Linked DNA regions of Homo sapiens: region 1 is linked to region 2. Evidence: fine-mapped expression QTL. A gene starts in region 2. The other region holds a variant in brackets. All regions are shown on one strand. Distances are between the middles of the regions. Region 1 has its middle 33 kb from the start of GPR37. Region 2 holds the start of GPR37 (G protein-coupled receptor 37).

What was found. PIP is the estimated chance that this variant, and not a neighbour inherited with it, causes the effect. A credible set is the group of variants that fine-mapping cannot tell apart.
Region 1: its variant is the best candidate, but not a certain one, in a credible set for the expression of GPR37 in lung (TOPMed, PIP 0.56).

The regions. Positions count from the first base shown.
Region 1 is chr7:124,730,294-124,735,508 of GRCh38, reverse strand. No RefSeq gene overlaps it. Among named protein-coding and RNA genes, the nearest start is that of GPR37, 33 kb to the left of the region's middle. RefSeq lists enhancers at 804-1,340, 2,983-3,484, 3,638-4,138. The variant C/T (reference allele first, on the strand shown) is at 2,901.
Region 2 is chr7:124,762,784-124,767,998 of GRCh38, reverse strand. It overlaps GPR37 (G protein-coupled receptor 37), which reads left to right and starts at 2,207. Exons shown (of 2, transcript NM_005302.5): 1 at 2,207-4,045. The coding sequence starts at 3,023. RefSeq lists a silencer at 2,066-2,195.

The DNA.
Region 1 (5,215 bases), 32 kb after region 2:
TTTGTATTTTTAGTAGAGACAGGGTTTCACCATATTGGCCAGGATGGTCTTGATCTCCTGACCTTGTGATCCGTCCGCCTCAGCCTCCTAAAGTGCTGGGGTTACAGGTGTGAGCCACTGCACCCAGCCCACTTTGCATTCTGTCCAGTTTTCTTTAATGGGATTAGAAAGTCTTGAGCATCATATTAATGATAATGGTAATCTCCGTGTCTAAGTTACTGATATGGAGGTAATCATATTCTAATCTTTTACCTCTAAATCTTGCAGACCTTTTCCATACAGTGGTATTTCTTTCACATTTAGTGAGTGCTTAACACTCAAGAAATTCCCTGATTCTTGTGAAAAATCCTGGGACCATGATTTATCTGCTTGAAGGACTAACTCTTCTCAAGGTTAAATCTGAGCCATTGGATGAAATTTTGATTAAGTCTATGGTGGACTAAGCACCCAGGTTGTTCTGTTAGGGACTTGACTTGACTTAGAGAAACATTGCCCTATATGTTCTAAAAAAACAAACAAAAAAAAACAACAAAAAACCCCAGTCTATCCTTTATTCATTCTAGCCTTTCATAATTCCTTAGAACTTCTAACACCATGTGACTATTTTATAATTATATGGATATCCTCTCATGTTTGATAGTACTGGGGACCCATTAATATTGAATTTAAGTGAATTAATGCATACACGAAATTGTGTCTTCATAGAATAAGCACTAATGAGTATTAGCCATTATTACTACATTTTATTATTAATAATTTTATTATTATGTATTTTCATGCACGTCCATGTGAAGAGACCACCAAACAGGTTTGTGTGAGCAACATGGCTGTTTATTTCACCTGGGTGCAGGCGGGCTGAGTCCGAAAAGAGAGTCAGCAAAGAGAGATGGGGTGGGGCCATTTTATAAGATTTGGGTAGGTAAAGGAAAATTACAGTCAAAGGGGAGTTGTTCTCTGGCAGGCAGGAGTGGGAGTCACAAGGTGCTCAGTGGGGGAGCTTTTGAGCCAGGATGAGCCAGGAGAAGGAATTTCACAAGACAATGTCATCAGTTAAGGCAGGAACAGGCCATTTTCACTTCTTTTGTGGTGGAATGTCATCAGTTAAGGCAGGAACTGGCCATCTGGATGTGTACGTGCAGGTCACAGGGGATATGATGGCTTAGCTTTGGCTCAGAGGCCTGACTTTCCTGTCTTCTTATATTAATAAGAAAAATAAAATGAAATAGTGGTGAAGTGTTGGGACTGTGAAAATTTTTGGGGGTGGTATGGAGAGATAATGGGCAATGTTTCTCAGGGCTGCTTCGAGCGGGATTAGGGGCAGCGTGGGAACCTAGAGTGGGAGAGATTAAGCTGAAGGAAGATTTTGTGGTAAGGGGTGATATTGTGGGGTTGTTAGAAGAAACATTTGTCGTGTAGAATTATTGGTGATGGCCTGGATACAGTTTTGTATGAATTGAAAAACTAAATGGAATAACAGAAGGAGAAAAACAGGTATAAAAGGTCTAAGAATTGGGACGACTCAGGACATCTGATTAGAGAGTGCCTAAGGAGATTCAGCATAGTCCTGCCAGCAAAGATTATTTATTTACTTTAAGAGTTAAGAGTGGCAGTTTGGGGATAGCACCAGGAGATATCAGCTGTGATGGCTTGGAGAAACAGTGTAAACTGGCAATGTAAATAAGAGCAGGGCATGTATGAGTAGTTGAGAATGGTGAATAGGAGTATGACTAGACAGAAGATAGTAGGGATGACAATTTTTTTGGGGCACAGTCTAAGTTGGTCTGGTGTCTGGAATGAGACTGGGGCCTAATAAAAAGGAGCATCTATACAGGAGCTTAAATGGGCTGTACCTTGTAGCATTCTGAGGACAGGTCTGACTTCTGAGAAGGGAAAGTGGTAAAAGTATTGTCCAGTCCTTTTTAAGTTGGTGGCTGAGCTTGGTGAGGTGTGTTTTTAAAAGACCTTTAGTCCATTCTACTTTTCTTGAAGATGGAGGACCGTAAGGGATATAAGGGTTTCACTGAATACTAAGAGCCTGAAACACTGCTTGGCTGATTTGACTAATAAAGGCTGGTCTGTTATCAGACTGTATAGAGGTGGGAAGGCTAAACTGAGGAATTATGTCTCACAGAAGGGAAGAAATGACTGCGGTGGCCTTCTCAGACCCTGTAGGAAAGGACTCTACCTATCCAGTGAAAGTGTCTACCTAGACTAAGAGGTATTTTACTTATCTGACTCAGGGCATGTTGAGTAAAGCTAATTTGCCAGTCCTGGGTGGGGGCAAATCCTCGAGCTTGATGTGTAGGGAAGGGAGGGGGCCTGAATAATCCCTGAGGAGTAGTAGAATAGCAGATGGAACACTGAGAAGTTATTTCCTTGAGGATAGATTTCCACGATGGAAAGGAAATGAGAGGTTCTAAGAGGCGGGCTAGTGGCTTGTACTATAGCATAGCCTGCCTTTGCTGGTGTGTGGCGATTAGGCCTAGTGGAACCGCCATCAATAAATCAAGCATGATCAGGGTTAGGAACAGGAAAGAAGGAAATATGGGGAAATGGGGTGAATGTCAGGTGGATCAGAGAGACAGTCATGGGGGTCAGGTGTGATATCAGGAATAATGTGGGAGGCTGGATTGAAGTCTGGGCCAGGAACAATGGTAATTGTGGGACTTAACAAAGAGTGAGTACAGCTGAAGGAGCCGGGGATCAGAAAGTATATGCGTCAGGTAAGAGGAAGAGAATAGATTTTGGAAGTTATGAGAAATGTAGGGAGTGAGTTGAGCATAGTTTGTGATTTTTAGGGCCTCTAAAAGTATTAAAGCAGCAGCAGCCGCTGCTTGCAGACATGAGGGCTAGGCTAAAACAGTAAGGTCAAGTTGTTTGCACAGAAAGGCTACAGGGTG[C/T]TGTCCTGGCTCTTGTGTAAGAATTCTGACCGCACTAACCATGCCTAGGAAGGAAAGGAGTTGTTGTTTTGTAAGGGATTGAGGTTTGGGAGATTAATCGGACATGATCAGCAGGGAAAGCACGTGTGTTTTTATGAGAATTATGCCGAGATAGGTAACAGATGAGGATGAAATTTGGGCTTGACTGAAGTAATGGGGGCTGTCTGTGAAGCCTTGCGGCAGTACAGCCCAGGTAATTTGCTGAGCCTAATGGGTGTCAGGTCAGTCTAAGTGAAAGCAAAGAGAGGCTGGGACGAGGGGTGCAGGGGAATAGTGAAAAAAGCATCTTTAAGATGGAGAACGGAATAGTGAGTTGTGGAGGAAGGTATTGAGGACAAAAGAGTGTACGGGTTGGGCACCACAGGATGGATAGGCAAAACAATTTGGTTGATAGGGCGCAGATCCTGAACTAATCTGTAAGACTTGTCTGGTTTTTGGACAGGTAAAATGGGGGAATTGTAAGGAGAGTTTATAGGCTTTAAAAGGCCATGCTGTAGCAGGCGAGTGATAACAGGCTTTAATCCTTTCAAAGCATGCTGTGGGATGGAATATTGGCATTGAGCGGGGTAAAGCTGATTAGGTTTTAATGAGATGGTAAGGGGTGCATGATTGGTCGCCAAGGAGGGAGTAGAGGTATCTTATACTTGTGGGTTAAGGTGGGGGAATACAAGAGGAGGACACAAAGGAGGCTTTGGATTGGGAAGAAGGGCAGCAATGAGATGTAGCTGTAATCCAGGAACAGTCAGGGAAGCAGATAATTTAGTTTAAGTGTCTCGTCCTAGTAAGGAACTGGGCAGGTGGGGATAACTAAAAGGAGTGCTTAAAAGAGTACTGTCTAAATTGGCACCAGAGTTGGGGAGTTTTAAGAGGTTTAGAAGCCTGGCTGTCAATACCCACAACAGTTATGGAGGCAAGGGAAACAGGCCCTTGAAAAGAAGGTAATGTGGAGTGAGTAGCCTCGGTATTGATTAAGAAGGGGACAGACTTACCCTCCACTGTGAGAGTTACCCGAAGCTCGGCGTCTGTGATGGTCTAGGGGGCTTCCGAGGTGATCGGGCAGCGTCAGTCTTCAGCCGCTAAGCCAAGATCTGGGAAGGAGTCAGAGAGCCTTGGGCCAGAATTCCAGGGGCTCTGGGAGTGGCTGCCAGGTGAGTTGAAAAGTCCGATTTCCAGTGGGGTCCCGCACAGATGGGACGCGGCTTAGGAGGAATCCTGGGCTGCAGGCATTCCTTGGCCTGGTGGCCAGATTTCTGGCACTTGTAGCAAGCTCCTGGGGGAGGAGGTTCTGGAGGAACGCCTGGCCGCTGCGGTTCAGGCATTTGGAAGTTCTTGTGTGCTGGAGTTGTGGCTGGGTTTGTCTCACAGTGGAGGCAAGGAATTGCAACTTTTTTCTATTATTTTACACCTTGAAGGCGAGGTTAATTAAATCCTGTTGTGGGGTTTGAGGGCCGGAATTTAATTTTTGGAGTTTTATTTAATGTTGGGAGCAGATTGGGTAATAAAATGTATATTGAGAATAAGACGGCCTTTTGACCTTTTAGGGTCTAGGGCTGTAAAGCGTCTCAGAGTTGCTGCCGAAGGAGCCATGAACTGGGCTGGGTTTTTTATATTTGATGAAAAAGAGTCTAAATGCTAACTGATTTGGGAGAGGTCAGATAAAGAAAAAGGAGCATTAACCTTGACTATGCCTTTAGCTTCAGCCACATTTTTAAGAGGAAATTGCTGGGCAGGTGGGGGAGGGCTACTCACGGAATGAAACTGTAAACCGGACCAGGTGTGAGGAGGGGATGTGATAAAAAGATTATAGGGTGGAGGAGCAGAGGCTGAGGAAGAATTGGGACTTAGCTCGGCCTGGTGATGAGCAGCCTGAGGAGGAGGGGAAAGGTCAGATGGGTCTGTAGAAAAGTAAGACTGGAAAGACTCAGAGATGCTTGGGGTTGGGACTGAGGGGACAGGCGGGAGGGAAGAAGGAGGATTTGGGAGGAGTCACATTGGAAACAGAGACTAGAGAGGGACTGATGTGTAAAAGAATGCCTGGACATCAGGCAACTCAGACCATTTGCCCATTTTATGACAAGAATTATTTAGATCTTGTAGGATGGAAAATTGAAAGTGCCATTTTCTGGCTATTTGGAACTACTGTTGAGTTTGTATTGGGGTCAAGCGGCATTTCAGAAGAAAATAAGATGCTTAGATTTTAGGTCAGGTGAGAGTTGAAGAGGTTTTAAGTTCTTAAGAACACAGGCTAAGGGAGAAGAAGGAGGAATGGAGGGTGG
Region 2 (5,215 bases):
TTTATGAGTATACAAGAAAATATAAATTCAGTGAGAGCAGAACTTTATTTTATTCACTGCTCTGACCTAAGTAACTTGAGCAGAATATTTCTTTAATGAAGTAGTGAATTTGAGAGAATGAGTTAGTGTATATAAATGAATGAATTAATGTACAAATGAATGTGTGCTATTAGCTTATATTTTTTCCTATTTCTGGCTTTGTCTGATTTTGACATTAAGGTTATTCTGCCTTCACAAAATGAACTGAGTAGCTTTAAAACATTTTGTATAAATGTATATTTATTCCGCAGGATATGCTAAGGTCTAGCACTTTCCTCTGGGTAGATCTTGATGAATGATTTGATTTCTTTAATGTTATAGTTCGATTACAGTTTCTGAAAATTTTCTTCTTGAACTATTTTTGGTAGTTTATGTTTTTCTATACAATTATTCCTGTTGTCTCCATTTTTAGATTTAATGGTGTATTAGTTTACTATTGCTACTGCAACAAATAACCATAAATTTTGTGGCTTAAAACAACACACATTCATTATCTTACAGTTATGGAGGTCAGAAGTCTCAAATGGGCTAGTAGATCCTTTTTTATGCCCATTCTAGCTTCCAGAGATTGCCCACATCACTTGGCTTGTGTTTGTTTTTACTCTGACCCTCCTGCCTCTCATTTGTAAGGGCTCTTGTGATTATAGTGTACCCACCTGGATAATCACGATACTCTCCCCATCTCAAGAGTCTTAGCTGAATTGCATTGGCAAAATCCCTTTTGCTCTGTAAGGTAACATACTCACAGGTATTAGGAATTAGGATTCGGACATTTTTTTGGGGGGGCATTATTCTATTTACCACAATTGGTATCATATGTTCCATTGTGTTTTCTCCTGCCTCTCTAGATGTGTTGCTTTAAAAAAATTCAGGCCGGGTGTGATGGCTCACGCCTGTAATGCCAGCGCTTTGGGAGGCCGAGGCGGGCGGATCACGAGGTCAGGAGCTCAAGACCAGCCTGGCCAACATAGTGAAACCCCGTCTCTGCTAAAAATACAAAAAAAATTAGCCGGGCATGGTGGCGGGTGCCTGTAGTCTCAGCTACTTGGGAGGCTGAGGCAGGAGAATCGCTTGAACCCGGGGAGGCGGAGGTTGCAGTGAGTCGAGATCGCACCACTGCACTCCAGCCTGGGCGACACAGCAAGACTCTGTTTAAAAAAAAAATTCAGAATGTGTTTATTTCTTCCTCTATCATTTTCTCTTCATTAATTTGTCTATTTTATTAGCTATGCCCTGACAGTTTTGACAGGGTTGTGGGATATAGTAGAAAGGTTGGAAAGGCATGGACAGCCGTGCTGGGAGTGCTGTTCGAGTAATTTTCTGCCTCCAGTCATTTCCCACTACTTCATCAAATACAACTACCTCACTATGCTCTGGGTGGTACGAAGTAACCCATGGTAGGATGCTTCCCAACTCAGTGTTAAAGGTAATGGTGCATCCTGAGCTTTCTCGCTCTGCATCTCAATCCTGGAACTGGTAATTCTCTATGACTGACACCTCTGAGCTCCCATTCTCTCCTATCTCTAGGGAATACCTGAGGAGGTGAGGTTTCACCTTCTTACTCCCCGCGGCCCAACCCCCGTCCGCCCCTCCCCCGCCCCGCCCCTCGCCCCCCAGAGCTGAGACCTGGGCATGCGCATCAGCCGCAACAGATTGGAGGGGACCCTGCTGCTCACTCCCCTGCTACCCTCCTCTCTTCCCTCCCCCGACCGCTCTCATATTCCCGTTCCCACCCCCACCCCCCACTCCCGCCCCGCACCCGCCCCTAGCCCGGGCTCGGGGACCTGTCAGGCTGGTTTCGACAGCTGGGGAATTAACCTGTCCCGCCCATCCCTAGCCTCGAGCCGCGCAGGCTCCGCGCCTCCGCCCTTGTTCCCTCCCAGCTCCTCCGAGTGGAAGCCGCTACAAATGGCTTGAATGAAACGTGTGTGGGTTTAGTGAGTGGTGAACCACCAGGGGATCCCGTCTCCCCACAAACCAGTATCTCTCCGAGGAGGAGGCGAAGGAGTGGGAGGAGGCAACGAGCCGAGAGTCGAGCTTCGCGGGCGCGCGCAGCGGCTGGAGCGCGGGGGCGAGGCCGGGCCACCTCCCCTTCCCGGCCGCGCACTGCCTGGCCCGCGGCGGTTCCAGGCACCACCCTTCCCGTCCGGGCTGAGCCCGCTGTGGCAGTGACTAGCTCCCGCGGCTAGCGGCACTGTCCACCGACGAGCGGCGCCCTCTTCTCCCCCTTCTCCCCACGATTTCCTTCTCTGCGGCGGCACGCCGTCCAGCAGCCTGCTTCGCCCCGTCGTCAACTTTGAGCTGGAGGAGAAGCAACTTTGGCAGTGGCCGCGGGGTTGGAATCCCGCTTCTCCTCGGCAGCAGTAGGCTCGCAAGTCGCTGGGGTTAGGTGGGGCAAGAGTTTCGCCGGCGCATCAGCGCTGCTTCGGACTGTTTGCAACGTGTTTCCAGCGAGCTGGGAGCGGGGTTGTGACTGCGAGTCGTCTGGGGGAGGGGGACTTGTTTTTCTTTTCCTCTAGAGACCTCGGCTTGCAACTGGATCAAACGCTGTCGAAAGGATGTAAATAGGCAGAGCAACTGTTACCAAGAAGGCCACCACCCCCACCCAAAGGCAGTGAGGAGTGTGGGGCTTCGTCTGGGCTCCCCCGAGTCTCAACAGTAATCAACAGTCAGGTGTTGATTGCAACTTTTCAAGGTCAGCCACCGGGAGTAGCCTATTCCCTCTAGGAACCTTGGAGGGCATACCTTGCTGGGACTCAACTTGGCTGAGAAATGCACAAGATGCCAAAGGAGGAAGGATTATAGGGGGCGTGTGTGTGACCCCCAAGACCGATCTTCCGCTATCACCCTAATCTCCGGTTCCCCGCTACCCGGGCGGGGGTGAGTATGTGACATGTGCCTAACTCTCAGCAGCAACTTCGGCAGCAGGTGTCGATCCTAACTAAGCAGGAGCTGCGGCTGCCGGGTGTGCCCTCACCAAGCCATGCGAGCCCCGGGCGCGCTTCTCGCCCGCATGTCGCGGCTACTGCTTCTGCTACTGCTCAAGGTGTCTGCCTCTTCTGCCCTCGGGGTCGCCCCTGCGTCCAGAAACGAAACTTGTCTGGGGGAGAGCTGTGCACCTACAGTGATCCAGCGCCGCGGCAGGGACGCCTGGGGACCGGGAAATTCTGCAAGAGACGTTCTGCGAGCCCGAGCACCCAGGGAGGAGCAGGGGGCAGCGTTTCTTGCGGGACCCTCCTGGGACCTGCCGGCGGCCCCGGGCCGTGACCCGGCTGCAGGCAGAGGGGCGGAGGCGTCGGCAGCCGGACCCCCGGGACCTCCAACCAGGCCACCTGGCCCCTGGAGGTGGAAAGGTGCTCGGGGTCAGGAGCCTTCTGAAACTTTGGGGAGAGGGAACCCCACGGCCCTCCAGCTCTTCCTTCAGATCTCAGAGGAGGAAGAGAAGGGTCCCAGAGGCGCTGGCATTTCCGGGCGTAGCCAGGAGCAGAGTGTGAAGACAGTCCCCGGAGCCAGCGATCTTTTTTACTGGCCAAGGAGAGCCGGGAAACTCCAGGGTTCCCACCACAAGCCCCTGTCCAAGACGGCCAATGGACTGGCGGGGCACGAAGGGTGGACAATTGCACTCCCGGGCCGGGCGCTGGCCCAGAATGGATCCTTGGGTGAAGGAATCCATGAGCCTGGGGGTCCCCGCCGGGGAAACAGCACGAACCGGCGTGTGAGACTGAAGAACCCCTTCTACCCGCTGACCCAGGAGTCCTATGGAGCCTACGCGGTCATGTGTCTGTCCGTGGTGATCTTCGGGACCGGCATCATTGGCAACCTGGCGGTGATGTGCATCGTGTGCCACAACTACTACATGCGGAGCATCTCCAACTCCCTCTTGGCCAACCTGGCCTTCTGGGACTTTCTCATCATCTTCTTCTGCCTTCCGCTGGTCATCTTCCACGAGCTGACCAAGAAGTGGCTGCTGGAGGACTTCTCCTGCAAGATCGTGCCCTATATAGAGGTAATGCCTTCCAGGGGCTCTCAAGCTAGTGGCTTTATCTGTTTTCGGGATTATAGCATCAGAGAACTGCTGCTGGATGCACCTATCTAGCTGAACGCCTTTCCTTTTTATCTGGGGCCCTCTTTCATTTCTCTTTCCAATCATTTATGCATGTATGTATATACAAAAAGAGGCAGCTTCGCGAAATCACCTTCAAATTCATCTGCTCCTGGGCTGTAAAAAAAGGATGATCTCACAATATACAGAATTGTTTGGAGTATAAATCTATCTCCCTGAATATGGTGTTATGCGTATTTCTGATTTGGCACTTGTCAGAGATTTTAGGGTTAAGTAAATGGCCAGCCTAAGGTTGTCATCATCAGAGCCTACAAGGAAAAAAAAAAAAACATTAGCATTTGTGTACTAGTTACCAAGTGCTTCAATGTGAGTTTTCCCCCAAGAAGATTATTGCATTTTTTCTTAAACAGCAAAGTTGGAGTAACATTTTATTGAAAGAAAGAAAGAAAGAAAATTGTGTTTGTCAGTTGGCCTCATGATATATTAATAACCTCTCAAATTAGTTTAAGTGTCTGACTGTCTTCCATGCTATCCCATCTAAATTCTTAAGTCATTTTTTGTTCCTGTCTTTTCCCATCTCGGTTTCTTAATTTTATTTTTGTGTGTTTGCGTGAACTTAAGCAAAAATAAGACTTTGGCCAGCGTGGCACATAATTTGTTTAACATTCTCAAAGTTATACATTTGTTATTTGTTATGGGTGGAAAGATTGGCTATTTTAAGGGATTGACCCTAAGACTAGAAAATTTCTTGGGAAGAAGGGGGCACATCTAGTTTCCAAACTTTGGAAACAAAAATCATTTTGAGTGAAATTGCATTGTTTCATCCTACAGCTAGTGTCCTGGCCCACTATTGTGGTAGGTGGACTTTGCTCTTTAAATGGCCTCTCTTTAAACACCAGCTCTTGGAAGGGGCCCAACTGTTTTGCTGCCAGTTGTGTTTTTAGCCAGCTGGCCCTTGATTTTCTCCATTCAGACTGTCCATTTCATTTATGGAAGCAGAAGAAGGGAAACTGTAAATATTCCGCAGCCCCTGATCCTGTCTGGCACCAGGGCCTGTGACACTATGTTCAACATTGTTCCAGGCCTAAAGCTGGGGGATAAGTAAACAGAAAA